Linked DNA regions of Homo sapiens: all the other regions are linked to region 1. The links come from fine-mapping of genetic effects on gene expression. A gene starts in region 1. Each other region holds a variant in brackets. All regions are shown on one strand. Distances are from middle to middle.

Region 1 (8,073 bases):
CAGCTAGACAACACCAAGCCATCAGGGAAGGCAGACACACAGGCAGAGGTAGTCCATGAACTCCACAGACAGGCATATGACATGCCACAGTCAGACCCATTCCTGGCCAAAGCTACAAAAAGTCAGAATCTTGAACACAGATTTATCTTATCCAATGACAGCCACATACCCTATCACTGATGATGGCACAGCCAGACAGCCACACAGGCTTACATTCGGGGGTCAGTGGCCAATAGACAAACATACATCATACATATCCCTAGACAGAGTCACTGACAGGTTAAAGTCACCCAACCAACACATACTTGTCACTCTCCATGACAGTTAATATGACTTGCTTCTAACAGCGAGACAGCTGAACAGATGGACAGCCAGAGACAGTATGTGTTGGAGTGTCAGTCAAACAGAGTCACAGAGCCAAGCTTCGTCAGCCAGCCAGCCAACCACAGTCTCTGTCTAGTCATGGAGTTGACGGTCAGACACACTTGGACACACAGAACCCATTGGTCATGGGCTCTGCCCCCACTCATGTCAGCCCCACTCCACGTGCCCTCACACCTGCCCTCATTTACCTGGCTTTGCGTTTCTTGCTGTAGTAACAGAAGACAGAAAGAAGCATTAAGAGACAGGCTCAGAACTGGGGAAACCGCGGGTCCCTACCCAACCCCCTCATTGCTGGGCAGGGGCCTCGAAGGCTGTGCTCACTTGCGAAGGAGGCGGTCACCGTTGAGGGGGATGAAGTACGGGAAGAGGTAGGGGCCCACGCAAGTGGACAGCACAAGGCACAGCAGGGCCAGTGCCAGGCTCCGGGCCACCTTCTGCAGCCACCGGCAGCTCTGTAGGGATCAAGCACTCCATGAGTGCTGCCCCAGGGTGGCTCCCACAGTCCCTGCCCACCCATCCACTCAGGACCTCACCAGTGGGCGGCCTTGGACAGCTTGTAGGTAGCTGTGGAAGGATATCCAGGGCCCGAAGACGATGGTGCCCACGAAGTAGAGGTAGCCCATGAACTCCACTGGCGAGGGCACCGTACCCACCTCGCCCCGGTCCAGGTCGAAGCCCAGAGACACTGCCTTCATGGCCACAATCATCTGTGCCCCTATGTGTGGTGCCCATGGTCAAGTGGATGGGCAGAGAGCAGATCAGCATGGCAAGGAGGAGGTGCACCAGGTGAGATGTGGTAGGAAAAGCGGGCACAAGGATGGATAGGTGGGCATGGGACAGATAGGCAGGTGGGCAAGGAAGCCCAGGACAGATAGATGCCCTTACTCCAGAGAGTCAGGCACATACATGACACGAGACAGACAGACTTCGGGAAAATGCACGGTGGAAAGAGACACGGACCCAAGAGTAATGTGAGGTCTGCACGTCCAGTGGGGTGGGCAGGTGAGGGAGAAAAGCAGGAGAGGAAAGGCACAGGGTGGGGGCAGTTAGGAGACGAGGAGTGGGGCAGGGGGGTTGGGCAGGTGAGAGGGGCAGGGCTACCTACCTCGCATCTTGTGCCATGTCACGGTGTCTACCATGTGCATCTCACTGAGGAAAAAGGTGCTGGTCTTGGTCCCATGACACTCATGGCCTCTGAGACCATGGGGGACAGGGGAAGGGGGTCCAAGGTGCCCAGAGGGTTCTACCTCCTCCTGTCCTACAACAGTCTCATGGTGGAAAAATTCTCCCAGGCTCCCTCCTCCAGGGGGAGCCCATGCCCAACCTGTCCCTTACAGTCCTGTGAAAGGACAAATCTCCCAGATTCCCTTCTCCAGGGACACTCCACGTCCTACCTGTTCTGTGTCTCCTCATAGGCAAATGATTCTCCCAGACTCCCTTCTTTCTCCGGGGAATCTCACCACCCTCCCTGTCTTGGACAACTTCATATGGGGCCTGGGGACCCACCCATGCACTTCAGCCAACAGTGTGAGGATAAGGATGCATACTCATACCCCATGAGTAGGTAGATGAGGATGGTGACGGATAGGAAGACGCCTCGATGGGAGGAATGTCGGCAGAGGAACAGCACGAGGTAGCACAGGAGGCTGAGCAGCACGACCCAAACCATGTGCAGCTGGAAGAAGTGGTAGAGGCTGAAGAACCCGCCTGCCACGGTGCTTGCATGCTTCAGGTAGGATGGCAACCCTTTGGGTGAAAGGGAGAAAGAAAGGGAGAGAGAGAACGAGAAAGAGAGAGAAAGAGAGGGAGTGGGAGGAAGGGAGGGAGGGAGGGAGAGAGAGAGGGAGAACAAGAAAGAGAAGGTTGGTGGGCTAGTAGGAAGGGGAGGATGACCTGGGTAGAGGGCGTAGCCAGGGCAAAGGCCTTCAGGCTGGAATGTAGTGGGATTGGAGGGGCCCAAAGCAGGTGTTGGGGAGCTGGAGAGGGTGGCAGGGCCTGGGTTTAAAGAAAAGAAACATCTATAAAGGGCATTTGGGGGACCTTGGAAGAAATTCAAATATCAATTTATATAGGATAACATTATTGTATCCAGATTCAATGTCTTGTGGGGTGATGGTGGAGGATGTGGTTGTGGGAGATGATGTCCTTGTTCTCAGGGGCCACACACTGAAGGATGTGGGGTACAGTGTCATGATGTCAGCAGGTTATTCAGGCAATTCAGGAAGATGATAGATAGATAGATGGATAGATAGATAGATAGATAGATGGATAGATATACAGATAGATAGATAGATAGACAGATAGAGCCAGCTAACGTGGCAAGATGTTGACAGAGAATCTGGTGATGCATACGTGGGTGCTCACTGTACTATTTTTTCAACATTTCAGTAGCTTTGAAAAATTTCAAAATAATAAACCTGGGAAAAAATAGAACATCCATTTAAAATTAAAAAAGAAAGAAAGAAAAAAGAAAGTGTAGAACCTTCGGATCTCAGATTTCCAGAAATCTCCGCCTCCTATAGGAATCTTGGGGACTTGGAATCTTTCATTAAGATACAGGCCTGCTATGACTGTGGAAACATTTCAGAATCCTAGAATCCAGAAATCGCATCATGCCCTGATTATAGAAATCCACAATGCCAACATTTTAGAAGTCTAGAATGTGAGAATTTCAAATTGTCAGAATCTCCAAACGCTGTAATCATGGTACTTTGGGATTCCATAACCCTGTGACATCAGCATGCCAATGTCTTATAACCTTGGGATGTAGACATTTCAGAATCCCAAGATCCAAGAATCTCAGCTTTCTGGAATCCCAGAACTCAGGAATACTGAAGGGCATGGCTTGGCATGGCAGGATGTGGCTCGGTGTGGCATGGCATGGGGTGGCTGGCATAGTAGGATGTGGTATGGTGGAATGGGGTTTGGCCTGGTGGGATGTGGTGGGGCTGAACATGTTGGGGTCCAGCTTGGACATGCTAGGGCCTGGCAGGATGTGACAGGGTAAGGTGTGGCTCGATATGGATGAATGTGGGAGGTCTGATATGGCCTGGCATGGTGGCACACGGTATGGCAGGCACTTACCGAGCCTCCAGAGGAGGCGGCAGGCGAGGCAGATGGCAAGGAGCAGCCAGATCTGGTCAAGGCCCTGCTGGGCAGTAGGCAGGAGACAGCCTTGCAGTAGCTGCTGGAAAAATTCCTGGCGGCTAAAGGTGGCCATTGCAGACCCCCACGGATGGATGGCCAGATGGATAGATCTGTCAAAGCAGGGACACAGAGGGAGCGGGTGTCCGTGGGGCAGACCTCGCTTAAAGGATGCACTCTGGCACTCACATTTCAGTTTGGGGCTGCCCAGCCCATGTAGAGGCACGGTACTGGAGGACTGGGGGAAGGCGTGAGAAGTCAGGTACATCAGACTGAGCCACCAACTGTGTGCATGTGGGTGTTCGGCATGCACACGCACAGCCTGTGACCTGGAGTGAATGAAGGACCTCTGTCTCTCCAGTGCTGTGAACAGTCCAGTCCGATGGTGATGGGATGGCATACATTTCAGGCCCATATATCAAATGGGGCGGGCGACGGGAAGGGGAATCCCTGGTTTCCAAGGTAGAGTCGCTCTGAGTGGAGGGCAGAGAGGGGGATTCTGTGACACTTGGGGGCCGTGTGCATCTCTCCTTGTATGGATGCGGCGGCACGGGGAGGGGGGGTGTCCTGTATCCTCCGCGCCCCCCATCTCATCCCCACCCGGCGAGAGGCCGCCAACAAAGTCCTGCCCAGGTCCGGGGGCTGCAAGGAGGTGGTGGTAGGAGACATAGCCTGAGGGAGAGTCGGAAAGGTGATGGGGAGGGGGTCCTAGCACTCGCGCTACAGATCCGCCTGGGGAGGCCGGCCCAGGGATGGGAGCTGGGGAGCCGCGTGCGCACTACTGGCGACCTACCTGGCAGGAAAGAAGCCGTGGTCCTGGGGACCGAGGACGCGCTGCCGCCGCCGCTGCCTCCTCCGGGCAGCCTCCCCCGCAGGCCGCAAGGCCGGGACCAGCAGCGGCTCCCAGAGCGGCGCGGCGAGCGGGCCCTTTAAATCCCGGGGCGGCCCGGCCGCCGGCTCGGCCAATGGGAGAGCAGGAGGGGGGCGGGGACGGGGACGCGGAGGAGGGGAGCAGGAGGATTGAGGGGAGACCGGCGCGGGGGGACGTCGGCGCGCAGGACGTTCACGCCCGCACCTTTCCGGCCTGTGGCGGTTTCAGCCCCAGACCGTCTGCCTCCGGAGGATTTCTGGCCATCCAAGAACAAACTTCCGAATCTCCAAATTTCCAAGCCTTGGAAGTGAGAAGGGAAAGATGGGGGAGGGAGGAGGGAAGCCGCTGCACCCCCAAATAGTCACCCGCGCACGTCCTCTAAATACCGTGGTGTCCCCGTTTCACAGATGGGAAAACAAACCGAGATCTCTCCTTCCCCAACCTTTGAGAGAACCGAAGTAACTCCCAACCCTCCCACCTCCTGGGACCGGCCAGGAACATTTATAAGTAATGACTGTGTCACCTAGGAACACAAATTAGGCGCCTGTGCTTCCCCTGGGGACGAGCTGTGAGCACTTGGCGTGTCGTCGTTGAGAAGTGATTTGCATGCTTAATTCCCCAGCAGACTCTTTGCTTCGAAGGTGACCCCAGCGACTAGTAAATGTTCTCTGTGAACTAGAGGGAGGCTAGTACCGAGCACTTAAAAGGGGGGCATTTATAAAGCTCTTAAGGGCCAGGCTCGGTGGCTCACGCCTATAAACCCAGCACTTCGGGAGGCCAAGGGTAGGAGGATAGCTTGAGGTCAGGAGTTCGAGACCAGCCTGGCCAACATGGCGAAACCCCGTCTCTACTAAAAATACAAAAATTAGCCAGGCGTGGTGGCGCACGCTTGTAATCCCAGCTACTCGGGAGGTTAAAGCAGGAGAATCAGGAGGCAGAGGTTGCAGTGAGCCAAGATCGCGTCATTGTGGGCTACAAGAGCGAAACTCCGTCTCAAAATAAATAAATAAAGACTGGGCGTGGTGGCTCACACCTGTAACCCAGCACTTTGGAAGGCCGAGGCGGATGGATCACCTGAGGTCATGAGTTTGAGACCAGGCTGGCCAATATGGCGAAACCCTGTCTCTACTAAAAATACAAAAAATTTAGCTGGGCGCCTGTAATCCCAGCTACTCCGGAGGCTGAGGCAGGAGAATCACTTGAGCCCAGGAGACGGAGGTTGCAGTGAGCCGAGATCACGCCATTGCACTCCAGCCTGGGTGACAAGAGCAAAACTCCTTCTCCAAAATAAATAAATAAATAAACAAGAGCGAAACTCCTTCTCTAAATAAATAAATAAATAAAATAAAAAAGAAAGCGCTTACACTGGCCCCATCCGCACCTCTATCTGCACCAACACTAAAGATTTATGTAGCACCCGCCTTCTACCTACCCTACTGCTGCAGTTTCTAGGCATTCCCCTTTGTACCTAGGCTGATGAAGGGCCTATTTTTCCAAAAGAGCACTTACTGGGCGCTTACTGCACTACATGCTTAGCTGTGACGTGGAAGGGAGAAGGAAGCCCAGGTCAAACTGGACGCCACCCTGACCTGGGCAGCCAACTGAAACAGATTTTAATCAGATTAACAATGGCCTGTATGGAGCTGGGCAAGTCATGTTCACTCACCCGTCTCCATTGTCCTTTTCTGTTAAACAAAAGAGTGGGCTTGGCAGGTTTTTGCTGGGAAACACCAATGGTAATTGAAGAGAAATGTATATTTTCTCTCTATTTTAACATGAAGTTAAATGGAGTTCTAGCTCATAAATTAGTATTCATGTATTACAAACAAAAAACATTTAATACGGTAAGAATATGTATATATAAGGAATAATAGCTTAGACCAGATGCACAAATATCAATTCTTTTCCTTAACAGCAGAATACAGGACATACATTTTATGAATTAAATTTCATTTTAATTTTTTTCTCAGTTGTCAAACCCACTCAAGTTGAGTCAACAATGACCCACAGCACCTACCAGAAATACTTCCCTCAATTGCAAGACTTGGCATTTAAAACTGGAAGATTCTTACCACATGTGCTCCTGGGCTTTGCGGACTTGATTGTTTCCATCTAGGCTTTTGACCTGTGTCACAAAGAAGTAGGATCTAGGTTTTAGGATATATAACGAACATCTACAAATCCGAAGAGGACAAACAATACACTTGGCAATAGACATTGGGTACAAATAGGTAATTCACAGCAGAAGAAACCTAAAATGGTCAATATGTATAATATATGAAAAGATAACCCAATCTCTTTACTGCTCAGGGAAATGTAAAATTAAAACAACAGTGAGATATAATACCATTTTACATCTACCAGATGTTGTGCTTCATATTTTTATCACTGGAGCTTAGTAGAGGGTGGACACTCAATAAATGTCTGTGGTCATTCTAGGTTGTGGTTTCTGGGGTGTTTTAGATGAGCTCTCCATAATTAAAGAGATACAAATTAAAAACAATGATATACTATTTTTCACTTATGGGACTGACAAAAATGCCAAGCCTTATAATGATAACATATTTGCTCTCTCTCTGTCTCTGTCCGTTTCTTTCTCCCCATGTATATACATATGTAATTTACATATATATAATTTTTCTGAATGATATACAGTGATTTTTCTGAATTATTTGTTAGTGGTTGCGGATATGACACCCTTTTAACTAAATACTTCAGTATGAATATCCTAAGAGCAAGGACTTTTTTTTCTTTTTTTACATTGCTACCAGCATAGTATGAGGTTTCCATTGCTCCACATCCTCACAAATACTTGTTATCTGACTTTTTGGTTCTAGCCACCCTGGTGGGCATGTCAATAGTGTCCTTGTATAGGAAAAGGGAATCATAGGGTCACAAGATACATTCTGTTATCAGGTTTTTTTAGTCTCCTCCAATGTGGAACAATGTCTCCATCTTCACTTAACTTTCATGATCTTGATGTTTTGGGAGAGCACAGACCAGTTCTTTGGAAGAATGTCCTTCAATTTGGGTTTATCTGATGTCTCCTCATGATTAGATTTGAATTCTGCATTTTTGGCAGGAATTCCACAGAAGTGACGCTGTGTTCTCAGCGTTATCAGGAGGCAGGAGGGTTCAGTTAGTCTCGAAATTGTTAGTATTAGCATTGATCTTTTGCTTAAAGTGGTCTTCTAGTTTTCACCAGTATAAATTTACTATTTTTCCCTTTGTAATTTTTTTTCTTTTTTTTTGGAGACAGGGTCTTGCCCTATTACGCAAGCTTGAGGGCATTGACACAATCATGGTTCACTGCATCTTTGAACTCCTGGGCTCATGTAATCTTCAAGGACTACAGGTGTGAGTCACCATGCCCGGCTAATTTTTAAATTTTTTGTAGAAACAGTCTCACTATGTTGCCCAGGCTGGTCTCGGATTCCTGGGCTTAAGCAATCCTCCTGCATTGGCCTCCCAAAGTGCTGGGATTACAGGCATGATCCCCTTTTGTAATTAATAAGTAGCTTTTCGGGAGATACTTTGAGACTGTAACTCTGCAATTTTTTTTAAATCAAACTTTTACTCACTACTTTAGCATTCATTGGTGATTCTTGCCTGAAGCAATAACTACTCTGATGGTGGCCAAATAATGATTTTTCTTTTACACATATACCTGGGAT
Region 2 (8,073 bases), 140 kb after region 1:
GGCCCAAAAGATAAGAGGTATTCCAATAAGCTTTGTATAATGTTCTCTTGGTCTCAATTCCTCATCCTTGAAGATAAGAGTGTTGTCTTTCCTTTTAGTATAGGAAGGAGATCTTTTACATGGGAATTTCATCTTTTGCTTTTAAGAAACACTACAAAGGTCAGTGATTTTATTTTATTTGTATCTGATGTCTTTCAACTGTCTTTATTTTAATAGTCAGTATGCCAGAGTAGCTGAGGAGTTTTGGAAAAAGAGTTTTGCTTAAAGAAGGATAAAGAGGAAGAGGTAAACGAAGGAGAGGGGAAGGTGTTGGAGAAGAAAATCTCAGCTAGCTTTAGACAATATCTTGCAGTGAGGCAGCCTTTGAGTCTTGAATGTGTTCTGGAGCCTCAAGATACCAACTGAGATAGGAGTCCCATTTGGACTGTATTATTTTAGTTCAGTTTGAGGAAAACAGACTGCGTGAATGATCCCCGTAATGTTGGCACATATTACCAGCTGGCGTCCCAGAAAGAGGGAACTATGTTGGCATGCCTTTGAACTTTGAGAGCCTGTGTGTAAATAAATTAATCTAGGTGATTCGGTTTAATGCCTAATACACAAAAGCCAAATTAAACTCTAAGCATGCAAACGACTCAGAAAATAAAGTACAAACTTACCAGGAAGCATGAGAAGCCTTCTCTAACAGAAAAATCTCTGTAACCCGGCCTCATAACCAGGAGGGAGAAAATCCCTCTTAAACAGGCCGTCTCTGGCTGGGTGTAGTGGCTCACGCCTGTAATCCCAGCACTTTGGGAGGCCGAGGCGGGCAGATCACTTGAGCTCAGGACTTCAAGACCAGCCTGGCTAACAGGGTGAAACCACATGTCTACTAAAAAACACAAAAATTATCCAGGCGTAGTGGCGCACACCTGTAATCCCAGTTACTCGGGAGGACGATGCACGAGAATCACTTGAGCCTGGGAGGTGAAGGTTGCAGTGAGCCCAGATCACACCACTGCACTGCAGCCTGTGCGACAGAGCAAAACACTGTCTCAAAAAAAAAAAAAAAGAAAGAAAGAAAAGAGAAAGACAAGATAAAAAAGACAAGACAAGAAAAGAAAGGAAAAGAAAAGAGGAGGTTTCATAACCAGGAGACAGAGAAAGACCCTTCCTAACAAATTCCCAAATAAAACTGAACTCAACTCCCCGACAAATGGCAGTTTGATCCAAGAAAGTCTCACCGGGGGGAAAGAGGCAACCAGAAAAGCAAAAGCTCAAGGGGACCAAGTGTGCAGACCTCACGCCATAGTTCCAGAGGTCATTGATATCTCCAAGGTGAGTCAGCTTCGGACCCGATTTCTGACACCACAAATATCAAAGTCAAAACCTATGGAGATGAATCTCTTTTTTAAATCGCAATATTAAGGATGTTATATTATGGTTTTTGTTTTTGTTTTTTAAGACAGGGTCTCACTCTGTCGTCCACCCCGGAGTGCAGTGGCACAATCTCGGCTCACTGCAACCTCTGCCTCCCCGACTCAGCCTCTGGAATAACTGGGATTACAGGCATGCACCACCACATCCAGCTAATTTTTTGTAATTTTTGTAGAGACAGGATTTCACCATGTTGCCCAGGCAGGTCACGAACCCCTGGGCTGAAGTGATCCGCCGGCCTCAGCCTCCCAAACGGCTGGGATTACAGGCGTGATCCACCACGCCCATGAATCTCTAAACATTTTATTTGAGAATCATAGAATTGTAATCTGAAGCATACACACAAACTGGCTGGTCTTTGGTATGTCCAAAGAACAATGAGAAAGTTGAGAGTTTTATTAGAAACAGAAATGTTACCTATAGTTTTTAAAGCAAGTCCCTTGGCACCAGAGAAGCTTTCAGGAGCTGGAAGCTCTGATTGGTGAGTGTGGACAATAGGTAAAACAAGCCTTAGAGTCATTGCAGGTTGTTTCAGCAGTTACTAGGTAAAAGTGCTCTTAGGGTGGCAGCAGGCCATTTCAGCCACCAGCTTTGTGGAAAATTCAATTCTTGGAGCAGGTGCAATGTGCCCTGATTGGTTTCTCCCCTGGCCACTCAACTCTGACCTAGTTGTGTATGTGGAAAATGACTCAATTCAGGTGGGTTTCAGTGGCACACGCCTGAAATCTCAGCACTTTGGGAGGCCAAGGCGGGCAGATGGCTTGAGGTCAGGAGTTCGAGACCAGCCTGGTCGACATGGTAAAACCCTGTCTCTAGTAAAAATACAAAATTAGTCCGGTGTGAGGCACGTGACTGTAGTCCCAGCTACTCGGGAGGCTGAAGCAGGAGAATCGCTTCAACCCAGGAAGCTGAGGTTTCAGTGAGCCGAGATCACGCACTGCACTCCAGCCTGGGTGACACAGCGAGACTTCATCTAAAAAAAAAAAAGAATGACTCACTTCTTTCACAATGGTTAAAGCAGAGCCCTGCTTAGCAATGCACAAAAATTCTCCTTTGTGACCCATTCATTTTACTGCTGTTGGCTTTCTTGCTTATGCTTTCAGACAGAGACACTCTCCTTTGACCAAACTTGAATCGGGCTCCTCTGAGTCCTGTTTCTGACTAGGTCTCAACCTCAGGCTCTGTCCTTCATCCAGGGACTCTGCCCATTTAGCCTTTTTCAGCAAAAAACCTGTCAAGTCGGTTTAGCCAGAATCCCCCTGCACCTGAGGCTTCCTCCAAGTAATTTCCCATCTTCTGACCCCCGGCTCCTACTCCCTGACTACAAATCCCCACTTGTCCTTGTGGAGTTGAAGTCGATCCCAATATCACTCTCCCACTGCAAGACCCCATTGCAGTGGTCCCTGTACCTATCACAGTAGTCCCCCCTCTGAGTAAAATCGTCCTTACGATCTTTTTTTTTTTTTATTTTCAGAGACAAAGTCTCACTCTGTAACTCAGGCTGGAGGGCAGTGACCCAATCCTAGCTCACTGCAGCCTGAAATTCCAGGGCCCAAGCAATATTCCTGCCCCAGCCTACCAAATAGCTGGGATTACAGGTACGCACCACCAAATCCAGCCATGTATATATATATATATATTTAAATTCTCTACAGACCCAGGAACTTGATATGCCCGTCTAATTTTTGAATTTTTTGTAGAGACGGGGTTTTGCCATGTTGCCCAGGCTGGTCTTGAACTCCTGGGCTCAATCAATCCTGTTGCTTCAGGCTCCCAAAGTTCTGGGATTACAGGCATGAGCCACTGCAGCTGGCCCTTCCTTACAGTCTTTAATAAGCCCAATAAATACTTGTTTGCTTCAACATTTCCCTGTGTCTTCAATCTCCTGAAGTCATATGGCTGACATTGTCTTTACTCCACCGGTATAAAAATTCCTTTCTTTCGTCGGGTGCAGTGGTTTATGCCTGTAATCCCAGCACTTTGGGAGGCCGAGGCAGGCAGATAACTTGAGGTCAAGGGTTCCAGACCAGCCTGGCCAACATGGCAAGACCACATCTCTACTAAAAGTACAAAAATTAGCCGGGTGTGGTGTTGTGTGCCTGTAGCCCCAGCTACTCAGGAGGCTGAGGCAGGAGATTTGCTTGATCCCAGGAGGCAGAGGTTGCCGTGAGCTGAGATCATGCCACTGCACTCCAGCCTGGGTGAGAAAGCGAGACTCAGTCAAAAAAAAATCATATTTTTCAACACCTTGGAATTATTACACGATTGTATCCTTGCCTCCAGTGTAGTATTTGAGAGATCCGATGTCAGTTTAATTATTTTTCCTCTGTAAGTAACCTGCTATTT[C/G]TCTCTGTTCATTTTTAAAATATTTTTTCTTTGTCTTTCACAATTTTACATTTCACTTTTCCTGTGTGTGTGTGTGTGTGTGTGTGTGTACTATAATACCTTTAAATCTTAAGTCATTTTTTTAAATCTGAGGAATTCTCATTGATTACTTATTTAAGTACACTCTCCTTTTTAATGACTATATTCTCTTCTTATAAGGCTACTATTAGATGTGTTTTGACATTTATTCTTCTATCCTCCCTATTAATTAACTTTTCTTTCATTTACTTCTTCTTTATCCATTACCGATTACTTTCATGAATTCTTTAGATGCATTTCCTCAGCTCAGTAATTGCTTTTTCAACTATATCGGTTTTAACATCCAATCTATTCCGCTGAATTATTTATTTGAGCAGTTAATGTTTTCATATCCAATCTATCCAATAGGTTTTCTATTTACTTATTTATTTATTTATTTGAGACAGAGTCTTCCTCTGTCGCCCAGATTGGAGTGCAGTGGCACGATCTTGGCTCACTGAACCTCTGCCTCCCGAGTCCAAGCAATTCTCCTGCCTCAGCCTCTTGAGTAGCTGGAACCTCAGGCGTGTGACACTATGCCAGGCTAATTTTTGTATTTTTGGTAGAGACGGAGTTTCACCTTGTTGGCCAGACTGGTCTCGAACTCCTGAACTCAAGGGATCCACCTGTCTCGGCCTCCCAAAGTGCTGGGATTACAGGCGTGAGCCACTGTGCCTGGCCTTTTATTTACTTATTTTTTCAGAGTTTCACTCTTGTTTCCCAGGCTGGAGTGCAATGGTGTGATCTCACCTCAATGCAACCTCCACCACCCAGGTTTAAGTGATTCTTCTGCCCCAGCCTCCTGAGTAGCTCGGGTTACAGGCATGCACCACCAAATTCTATCATTCATTAGCATCTGTATCCATTCCTTGAACACCAAAACAGCTTATCTTTTCTTTCTTGTCCCTGCTCCCATCTTCCAAGTTTATAATACTGGGAATTTTAGTTCAAGACTGTAATTTTTAAATTTTTCAATCTAAAGTTTACACTTTTCAATAAATTTTACTATTTTTCTCCTCACCATTGCTTACTGAAATCACCTCCTTCCTCCTAAATTTAGTTTTCCCTTCTCACAGGACTGTATACCAATAATTATTTCTGAAGGGTATATGCGTCATGAATTTTCTGAAATATTTTTCCCCTCATTCTGGATTATCCTGGCTGTATATAGATATCTAGGTTCAACTTTTTTTATTGTTTGTTCTTGTTTTGTTTTTTTGAGATAGTGCCTGGCTCTGTCACCCAGGCTGGAATGCAATGGCACAATCTCGGCTCACTGCAATCTCCACCTCCCGGACTCAAGCAATTCTCCTGCCTCAGCCTCCCAAGTAGCTGGGACTACAGGCATGTGGCACCACACCTGGTTACTTGTGTTTTTTGTAGAAGTGGGTTTCGCCTTGTTGGCCAGGCTGGTCTCAAACTCCTGAGCTCAAGCGAGCATCCGGTCTTGGCGCCGAAAGTGCTGGGACTACAGGCATGAGCCACTGCGCCTGGCCCAAAGTTATTTTAAATCAGCTCCTTGAAAAACCTCTCCATTGCATTCTCTCTTCTCTTTTTCTCTCTGGGACCTTTCAGGATTTTATCTTTATCCTAGAAATTTTACCCCGAGGGTGTGTGTGTGTGTGTGCGCTCGTGCGTGCACAGGTGTGTGTGCACATGTGTGTTAATCAGGCTCAGAACTAGGTGGCTCTTTTCAGGTTGAAGATTCATGTCTTTGTTCAGCTGGGAAAATTCTAGAACATTATTTCTTCAAGTACTGCCTTCTCTCCAGTCTATTTTTTTTTTTCATTTTTGAGATGGAGTTTTGCTCTGACACTGAGGTTGGAGTGCAGTGGCAGGACCTCAGCTCACTGCAACATCTGTTTCCCGGGTTCAAGTGATTCTCCTGCCTCAGCCTCCCAAGTAGCTGGGATTTCAGGTGCCCCCCACCACACTGGGCTAATTTTCGTATTTTTAGTAGAGGCGGGGTTTCACCATGTTGGACAGGCTGGTCTCGAACTCCTGACCTCAGGTAATCTGCCTCCCTTGGCCTCCCAAAGTGTTGGAATAACAGGCGTGAGCCACCGCGCCCATCCCAGTCTTTCTATTCTCTACCTCTGGATCTTCTATTGGATGAACGTTGAAAGTTCTTGGATCTCTTCTCCACTTCCTTTATTATTTTCCTTTCGTAATTTCTGTTTTGTAATCCTTTTCTGCTATATGATAAAGTAGTGCCATGCCTGAACACATTTTTTCATTGGGTTGTTCCAGTTTCTCTTATTGATATGGAAACGCTTTGTTATATATTAGAGATGGTTACTGTTAATTTATTGGGGATGCTTCATTTTCCCCAAAATTTGCCTTTTTTTTTTTTTTTTGAGATGGAGTCTCACTCTGTTGCCGAGGATGGAGTGCAGTGGTGCGATCTCGGCTCACTGCAAGCTCCACCTCCCAGGTTCATGCCATTCTCCTGCCAGGTTCATACCATTCTCCTGCCTCAGCCTCCCGAGCAGCTGGGACTACAGGCGCCCACCACCACACCCGGCTAATTTTTTGTACTTTTAGTAGAGACGGGGTTTCACCGTGGTAGCCAGGATGGTCTCGATCTGCTGACCTCGTGATCTGCCCGCCTTGGCCTCCCAAAGTACTGAGATTACAGGCATGAGCCACTGTGCCTGGCCTAATATTTGCCTTTTTAAACAGTTTTTTATGGTGTCTTTTGACTTAGATGATACTTTAATTTTTACGTCTTTAAATATGTCAGATTCATTATTTATAGCCTTGGTGTAATATCAGGAAGTGCCTATGCCAACTCAAGATGTCTTACACTGTAATATTTTCCTAAAATTTCATCTAGTTCTTTATGACTTCACGTTTTCACATTTAAGTCTCTGAATTTTTAGAATTTATTATTTTATGTGGTTGAAAGTAAGGATTTAATGTTTATTTTTCCAAATGGATAGACACTTGTCAACAATCCTTTATTACACAACCCATCTTTTGCCCACTGTTTGGAAATGCATGCTTAAGTTTGTATATAAATTAGTTTGTTTCTTGACTTATTATTTTGTTTCACTAATTAATCTATTTCTAAGTGTATTCATTTTTGATTGCTGCTGTAACAAATTGTCAATAGCTAAGACAACACTGGGCCCGGTGGCTCACACCTGTATTCCCAGCACTTTGGGAGGCTGAGACGGGCAGATCGCTTGAGGTCAGGAGTTTGAAACCAGCCTGGCCAACATGGCGAAACCCTGTCTCTACTAAAAATACAAAAATTAGCCGGTGTAGTGGCGTGCACCTGATATCCCAGCTACTCGGGAAGCTGAGACAGGAGAACCGCTTGAACACGGTAGACAGAGATTGCAGTGAGCCGAGGTCACCCCACTGCCCTCCAGCTTGGACGACAAAAGTGAGACTCCATCTCAAAAAATATTTATATAGCTAAGACAATTTTTGAAAAAGAAGAATAAGGTGGGAGGAATTGCTCTACCATATTTCAATACTTCTTATATAGCTACAGGAATCAAGACTATATATTATTGGGAGAAAAATAGACACATAGATCACTGTAACAAAATAGAAATCCTAGAAATAGCCCCACACTGATTTTTTACCAAGAGACAAAAATAGGGAAAGATCATCTGCTTAACAAATGATGCTGGGGCAGTTGCAGAGCCATAGGCCAAAAAGAAAAAAAAAAAACCAAAAAGGCCTAATCTTCACACCTTTATACAAAAAAGTAAGTCAAGTGGATCATAGATTTAAATCTAAAATATAAAACTATAAAAGGCCGGGCACGGTGGCTCACGTCTGTAATCCCAGCACTTTGGGAGGCCGAGGTGGGCAGATCACGAGGTCAGGAGATCGAGACCATCCTGGCTAACACAGTGAAACCCTGTCTCTACTAAAAATACAAACAAGTTAGCCAGGTGTGGTGGCAGGCGCCTGTAGTCCCAGCTACTCGGGAGGCTGAGGCAGGAGAATGGTGTGAACCCGGGAGGTGGAGCTTGCAGTGAGCCGAGATCGTGCACTCCATCCTGGGCAACAGAGCAAGAATGCATCTCAAAAAACAAACAAACAAACAAAAAAACTAAAAAAAAAGTTTTACAAGAAAATATAGGAGAAGCGTCTGAGATCTAGGGCATAGTGAATGGTTCAAAAAGCATAATACATAAGGAAAAAATAAATTAGATTTCATCCAATTTAAAACTTTTGCTCTGCAAGAAATCTTGTTAGAAGGATGAAAAAATATGGTATGATCTGAAAGAAAAT
Region 3 (8,073 bases), 21 kb after region 1:
GACACACTTGAAGCCATGCGCACACACATGCATGGACCTCCAGAGTTACACATGCACACATACACACATGCACATGCACACACACACGCGCACACACACACACACACACACACACACACGGGCACCCTGAGGTACCTGTACACAGACACCGAGGCCTGGGTCCATGGGCACACCTGATCACATCCACACACCCATGCACGTTCACACAGGTTATATGTTCACAAATACCCAGACTGAGGCCCACGGACAAATATGCACCTGCAGTACACACTCACACCTTTATGGGCATCCAGGGGGTATATGTACACAGACAGCCAGACCTGAGCCCATAGGCACACTTGCACTTTTGCACACACACATGCATGGTGCCCAGAGGTACATGTGTACAGACACCACAATCTAGGTTCCTGGGCACTTGTGCATCTGTGCACACACACACGTGGGAAATCCCTGCAGCCATGCATACAGCATGCCCACGTACATGTGCACAGACATCTACGCCCAGGCCCTTGTGTACCTGTTCACTCACACTTGCACGGGGCGGGGGGGGCGGTGCCCAGGGGTATACATGCATAGATACTAGACTTACCAGCTTGGGCCAATGTGCTCCCCTTCACTTACGCACTCACACACAGCCATGCATGTGCACGCTGGCATACACATGTATATACACAGACACAAACACTCAGGCTAGCACCCACGGACATAGGGCTTTGCACATAGAATCTCATATATAAGTACACCCTCACACATATGCACAGTTGCTTTTCACAAACACCCCTGTCAGGGAACAGGTCCCCATGTGCCTGCTACACCCTAGCATCTCCATGAGAATTCACACTTGAACTTCTGTTGCCCATATGCACTTATAACCATACCTGCATTCAAAACAGCAAAGCATGAATGCACACACATGTGCCATGTATGCATGCATGCACAAAAGGACTAATGTGCACACACATGGGCATAAGCACACCACGCACTCCTGCATAACTTCACACGTACTGGTACGCACACACCTATGTGCGGGCATGCATACCAATTATCCCGAGGCTCTTCTCCACCAACCCTGCATAACTGGTGATGGCTCCCAGCTCTGGCATCGGGCAGAACTTTCTTGTGAGGTACGGGCTGTGACTCATAATTCACTCCAGCTTTCCTCAGCTCCTGTGTCATCTAGAGAGACTCAGAACACTTGCCCCTTCCCTTGGGCTGCCACCAAGCCTGAGATGACACCACACCTATTCTCCCGAACCAAGGCATCGAGCAACCTGGCATGAACCAGGTGTGGGTGGAGTGTTAGAGGAAGCCTTGGGGCAGTTCTGAAAGCTCCCCAAGCAATTATTAGTCATTTTGTTATGTGGCAGAGGATATTCCATGGACACCGCCCCCAGAACCTGCAGGAGTGCCACGGATTTCATTCCAGGCTTGCCCTGGGCCCCTCCTGCTGCTCCAGAGCCCCCTTCAGCTAGACGAGGAGGATGTGCTGAATTTTCCTTCCTTCACTTGAGCACTGGCTCCCCTCATACCTGGCCAACACGAGTCTCTTGAAATCAGCCTTGAAACTGAGAGCCAATTAGCTGCTCAGACTGCCTTAACAAAATACCTCAGACTGGGTGGCTTAAACCACAGACGTTTATTTTCTCACAGTTCTGGAGGCTGGAAGTTCAAGATCAAGGTGCCGGTAGGGTTGGTTTCTGGTGAGGCTTCTCTTTCTGGCTCGTAGACAGCCACCTTCTTTCTCTGTCCTCATGTGGCTTTTCCTTTGTGCGCCCACAGGGAGAGAGGGAGGGAGCTCAGGCATCTCTTCCCTCTCTAATGAGGACACCGGTTCTATCAGATTAGGACCCTGCCCTTATGGCCTCATTTAATCTTAATTACCCCCATCTCCAAATACAGTCACATTGAGGATTAAAGCTTCAACAAAGGAATTTGCTGAATTCACAATTCAGTTCACAGCAGACAACAAAGGGAGCACTACCTTGAGCAGTTGAGGGAGGCCCCGGCTCCCTCCTTTTCCTCAGGTGCATTCCTGAGATGTGTTTGTGCAGGAAGGAGAGGGGTAAGGACAGGCATGAGCACAGCCTCTCTTGCAGAAATAGAAATCTTTATTGCTTGCAAAGTACTGCACTTTTTTTGTTTTGTTTTGTTTTTTGTTTTTTCTTCAAAACAGGGTCTTGCTCTGTTGTCCAGGCTGGAGGGCAGCAGCATGATCTCAGCTCACTGCCGCCTCAATCTCCCAGGCTAAAACGATCCTCCCACCTCAGCCTCCCAAAGTGCTGGGATTACAGGCATGAGCCACCATGCCTGGCCAGTACTGCACATTTTCCAAAAGTTATAACTTAAATGTAAAGAGTTATAATTTACATACGATAAAGTTCACCCTTTTGGCATACAGTTCTCTGAGTTTTGACAAACAATAACAGTTGAGTAGCCGCCACCACAGCAGCCAGAGGGATCCTGTTGCAACCCAAGTCAGCCCGGGGCCCTCCTCTGCTCGGAGCCCTGCCATGGCTCTCATCTCTCTCAGAGAAAAAGCCAAAGTCCTCTCCGTGGCCCACGAGGCCCTCCGGGCCCTCCTTGACCTCACCGCCCGCCACTGGCTCCTTGTTCACTCTGCTCCTGCCCCACTGGCCTGTTCTTCAAATGTGCCAGGCACCTCAGGGCCATTGCCTCAGGGCCCTTGCCTTTCTTTCTTTTTTTTGAGACAGAGTCTTGGCCTATCACCCAGGCTGGAGTGCAGTGGCACAACCTCAGCTCACTGCAACCTCCGCCTCCCAGGTTCAAGTGATTCTCCTGCCTCAGCCTCCCAAGTAGCTGGGATTACAGGTATGTGCCACCACGCCTGGCTAATTTTTGTATTTTTAGTAGAGACGGGGTTTCACCATGTTGCCCAGGCTGGTCTCAAACCCCTGACCTCAGGTGATCCACCCACCTTGGCCTCCCAAAGTGTTGGGATTACAGGTGTGAGCCACCACATCCGGCCCTTCGCCTTTCCCTGGATCACTCTTCCTCTAGATACACCCTCCCAGCTCACACTGACAGGGAAGAGTGCACTCCCAGGTTTACACTGACTGCTATAGGGACCTTCCCAGGGTCACACAGCCTGGGGTGTGGATCCTCTTGGAATCACACAGGTGAGGGTGTAGACACTCATGATGTTACTAGATTTTGGAGTAAGAAATCCTGAGGTCATGCTGATTGTGGTGTAGCCACTTCTGGGGTCACACAGAGTAGGGTGTGGCCACTGCTGAAGCATCACAGACCGGGATGTGTTCTCTTAGGGTCATACAGATTGGTGTGTGGGCAACACTGGAGTCACGCAGACTGGAGTGACTTGGATCACCGAGTTTGGGGTGTGGACACTTAGGGTCACACAGTCTGGAAAAAGGACATGGCTAAGGATACATAAACTGGGAAGTCAGCACCACTGTGGTCAAGTGACTGTGATGTGGACACTCCTGGATTCCCATAGGTTCGTCTGGGGACACTCCTGTGGTTACACGACTTGTGAAGTAGACTCTGCTGGGGTCACACAGACCCAGCTGTGGATATGCTTCGTCTGTGTGACTGGGGGGTGAATGTCCCCTGAGTGACAAAGATTGGCGAAGGGACACCCTTGGGCTCCCAAGACTTGGTGTAGATCCTTCTAGACTCCCACTGACTGGGGGGAGGGACACTCCTGGAGTCACACAGACTTTGTTGTGGACACTGTTGGTGTCATACCCACTGGAGTATAGACACCTCTCAGGACATGCAGATAGGTGTGGACACTCCTGTGGTCACACAATTTGGTGTGAACATTCCTCTGGTCACACTGACTGGGGAATTGACTCCTGTGTGTTTACAGACACTGGGGTGTGAAGACTCCTATGGTCACACAGACAGGGCTGTGCCCTCCCCTGGGTCACCCAGACTGGAATGTGGACCCACCAGTAGTCACTGGCACTGGAGTTTTACACTCCTGTGGTCACAATGACAGGGGAGTCGATAGTCTTCTGGTCGTACAGATGGGGGAGTGCACCTGCCTGAGGCCGTCAAGATGGGTATAGACACACTAATAGCCAGAGACTATGGGGTTTGGACAACACCAGGGTCACATATGCTGGGAACTGGACATTACTTGTGTCATAAAAACTTGGGTGGGGACACTCCTGAGGTGGCTGGACTGGGGCAAAACCACTCCCAGGACACCACAGACTGAGCTGTGGACTCCTCTGTGGTCACCGTTTGAGCTACACATTTATGGCACCACTAAGATGGCTATGGAAACTCCAAGCCATTGCCACTGCTGGACTCACAGAACCTGGCGTGAGGACACTCCTGAGGTCTCACAGGCTGTCGTGTGAACGCTGCTGAATTTGCACTGTAATGGGTGTGGCTACGCCTGTGGTCACACGGCCTTTTGTGTGGACACTTCCGCCATACATTCTTGGGCTGTGCATATTCACAGATTGGGGTGTGGGCATTCCTGTGGTCACACTGACTTCGGTGAGAAGACTCCTGGGTTAAGTCACCATGGTGTGGACACTCCTAGACTGACACAAACTGGGGTCTGGACATTCCTGGAGTCACACAGACTGGGGTGTGGTTATTTT[C/T]GTGGTCAGAGACCGGAGTGTAGACATGCCTATGAACACACGCTCCAGAATTTAAACACCATTTCTGACTGGAGATTGGACAATGGTTTTCCCAGACTTGAGTGTGCATACTCCTGGGGTCACACATGGTAACTGGGGTGAGTCACAGTCAGGTGTGGAAACAGCTGGGGTCGCAGACTGGTATGTGGATACTCCTGAGGTCACTGGACTGTGGCGTGGATAGTCCTTGGATCACAGAGTACGTGAATTTCTAAGGACACAGGATTAAGCTGTAGAAAACAGTTCTGTTCGTGTAGCTGGGGAGTTTCTGTCAGCTCCTGTTCATTAAGTTATAGAAATTTAGGACTGCAGTCCAGGTAGACTTTCTGACATTGCTTTTTTTTTTTGAGACAGAGTCTCACTCTGTCGTCCAGGCTGGAGTGCAGTGGCGCGACCTCGGCTCACTGTAACCTTCATCTCCCGGGTTCAGGTGATTCTCCTGCCTCAGTCTCCTGAGTAGCTGGGATTACAGGCATGTGCCACCGCACCCAGCTAATTTTTGTATTTTTGGTAGAGACGGGTTTCACTATGTTGGCCAGACTGGTCTCAAACTCCTGACCTCAAGTGATCCGCTTGCCTCAGCCTCCCAAAGTGCTGGGATTACAGGCGTGAGCCACCACGCCTGGCCCTGACGTTTCTTTAAGACAGGTTTTTAACCTAAAAAATTTGTTCTGAAGTCTGGGTGCGGTGGTTCACGCATGTAATCCCAGCACTTTGGGAGGCCGAGGTGGGTGGATCACCTGAGGTCAGGAGTTCGAGACCAGCCTGGACAAAATGGTGAAACCCCGTCTCTACTAAAAATACGAAAATTAGCCGGGTGTGGTGGCGGGTGCCTGTAATCCCAGTTACTCGGGAGGCTGAGGCAGGAGAATCGCTTGAACCCAGGAGGCAGAGGTTGCAGTGAGCCAAGATCACACCACTGCACTCCAGCCTGGGTGACAGAGCGAAATTCTGTCTCAAAATAAATAAATAAATTTGTTCTGCAGAACCCTTTGGCATCTGGTTAAATCTGTGAACCCCTTCACAGAATATTTTTAAAAGTATATACATACACATACACACACACACAATTACAATGGAAGCCAATTACATTGAATTACAATTATTACTATATATTAAATTGAAACAAAATTGAGATGCAGTAATATATGGGCTTTTTAATTAATACATCAACTTACAGGATCTGCTATCATTCCAAGAGGTGACAAATATGAACAATACTTCAAGATGCCCTTTTTATGTTACATTACAGTTGCTGTAACTGGTTTGTATTGGTGGGAAAATCCCAGGTACTGCTTTTACTACTGTGATTTGTTGCCAGCATTTATAACTTGGGAGTAAGGCTAAATTTCAGTTTCATTGCTGAAAATAAAGATGTAACATTTTCTTCCATCAAGTTCATGGTTACCCCTGGCTTCTATCCAGGTTAAGAATCCCTGCCTTTAGGGAAAATTCTGGACATAATCAGGACACTCCTGAAGAGGTTTAAAGAAGAGGTAAGACCTCACTCAAGAATTCCCACTGCAGTACAGACAGACTTTCATGGTTTCTTTCCTTGTTGTCTTCAGGGTTGTTGCAGATCCCTCCTCAGGGCTTGTTTGTCCAGGCCTCGTTGATGAGATGATATTTTGAAAACAAGTTCATCAACAAGTTCCGGTTTTCCTGACATTGAGCAGTTTCTGAGTTGTATCAGTTTGCCAGCTAACCAAAAGTCAAAGAAAGTTTTTTTGTTTTGTTTTGTTTTTTTAGAGACAGGGTCTTGCTCTGTCACCCAGGCTGGAGTGCAGTGGAGCTCCATCATAGCTCACGACAACCTTAACCTCCCAAGCTCAAGTGATCCTCCCACCTCAGCCTCCCAAGTAGCTGGGATTACAGGCAGGAATGTGCCACCACACCTAGCTAACTCTGCTGCTAACATTTTTGTGACATTTCCTCCTTTTATGGTGAACCATGACATATAGAAAATGCATAAAACCTATATATGTTCAGTTTAATGAATAACTACAAGGTGTTATTTGGTGTAATTGCAGGATGTTCACTGTCATTGTTGTACAGTTCTCCACGGTGAATGTACCACGATTTAATGGGCATATACTATAGATAGTGCTGCTAGCAACACTCTAGGACTCATTTCCTTTTTTTTGAGATGGAGTCTGACTCTGTCACCCAGGCTGGAGTGCAGTGGCACGATCTCAGCTCACTGCAACCTCCACCTCCCAGGTTCAAGTGATTCTCCTGCCTCAGCCTCCTGAGTAGCTGGGATTACAGGTGCCCGCCACCATGCCCGGTTAATTTTTGTATTTTTAGTAGAGATGGGGTTTTGCCATGTTGGTCAGGCTGGTCTTGAACTCCTGACCTCAGGTGATCCACCCACCTCGGCCTCCCAAAGTGCTGGGATTACAGGCGTTGAGCCACGGCACCCGGCCTCTAGGACTCATTTCTTAGGAGTGGAACTGGCACACATGCAGCTTTAGTAGGTAATGCCTAAGTTTCCACAGTGGCTGCACCATTTTACCTTCCCAGTAGCATGTACGAGGCTTTCAATTGCTGCATATCCTTTCAAATACTTAGTGTTGTTGATATTTTGAGTTTTCACTTGTATTTTCCTGATGAGCAGCTTTTCATGTGCTTACTGGCCACTCTCATGTTTTTCCTTATTGATTTACAGGACCCTTTAAATATTAAAAACTGTAAATCTCTTTCACACAATGATTTGCTGTTTCAATTTTTTCTTAAGGTGGCTTCTTGTGGCCAGGTGTGGTGGCTCAGGCCTGTAATCCCAGCACTTTGGGAGGCCTGAGGCAGGCAGATTTTGTGAGGTCAGGAGTTTGAGACCAGCCTGGCCAACATGGTGAAACCCCGTCTCTACTAAAAATACAAAAATTAGCCGGGTGAGGTGGGAGCACACGTCTGTAATCCCAGCTACTCAGGAGGCTGAGGCAGGAGAATCTCTTGAACCCGGGAGGCGGAGGTTGGAGTGAGCTGAGATAGTGCCACTGCACTCCACCCAGCCTGGGCGACAGAGCGAGACTCTGTTCTCAAAACAAAACAAAAAACAAAACAAAAAAGGCCAGGTGTGGTGGCTCACACCTGTAATCCCAACACTTTGGGAGGCCGAGGCAGGTGGATCACCTGAGGTCACGAGTTTGAGACCAGTCTGGTCAACATGGCAAAACCCCATCTCTACTAAAAATACAAAAATTAGCCATGCATAGTGGCGGGCACTGTAATCCCAGCTATTTGGGAGGCTGAGGCAGGAGAATCGCTTGAACTTGGTAGATGGAGGTTGCCGTGAGCTGAGATCATGCCACTGCACTCCAGCCTGGGTAACAGAGTAAGACTCTGTCTCAAGAAAAAAAAAAAGGTGGCTTTTTGTGATGGCTGACTTAGTCTGAATAACCTGCTATGCCATTGTCAGAAAGGGCCATCCTCTAAC

Which allele goes with the higher level. Positions count from the first base shown, and alleles are read on the strand shown. Sizes are in standard deviations (SD) of each study's normalised expression. Not every link is listed here.
With allele C in place of T in region 3, the expression in fibroblasts of the gene that starts at base 4,433 in region 1 is lower (small effect, 0.36 SD a copy in GTEx).

What was found.
Region 2: its variant is fine-mapped to the expression of PORCN in thyroid (GTEx, PIP 0.93).
Region 3: its variant is fine-mapped to the expression of PORCN in fibroblasts (GTEx, PIP above 0.99).

What each region holds. Positions count from the first base shown.
Region 1 is chrX:48,505,352-48,513,424 of GRCh38, reverse strand. It overlaps PORCN (porcupine O-acyltransferase), which reads right to left and starts at 4,433. Exons shown (of 15, transcript NM_203475.3): 1 at 4,322-4,433; 2 at 3,469-3,641; 3 at 1,938-2,130; 4 at 1,490-1,533; 5 at 918-1,099; 6 at 706-836; 7 at 573-590. The coding sequence starts at 3,604. It overlaps PORCN-DT (PORCN divergent transcript), which reads left to right and starts at 4,586. Exons shown (of 2, transcript NR_135596.1): 1 at 4,586-4,706; 2 at 6,370-6,899. RefSeq lists a silencer at 4,207-4,606.
Region 2 is chrX:48,362,229-48,370,301 of GRCh38, reverse strand. No RefSeq gene overlaps it. Among named protein-coding and RNA genes, the nearest start is that of SSX3, 9.6 kb to the right of the region's middle. The variant C/G (reference allele first, on the strand shown) is at 3,763.
Region 3 is chrX:48,484,001-48,492,073 of GRCh38, reverse strand. It overlaps FTSJ1 (FtsJ RNA 2'-O-methyltransferase 1), which reads right to left. Exons shown (of 13, transcript NM_012280.4): 13 at 5,724-6,338. Among named protein-coding and RNA genes, the nearest start is that of FTSJ1, 12 kb to the right of the region's middle. RefSeq lists a silencer at 2,753-2,986. The variant C/T (reference allele first, on the strand shown) is at 4,599.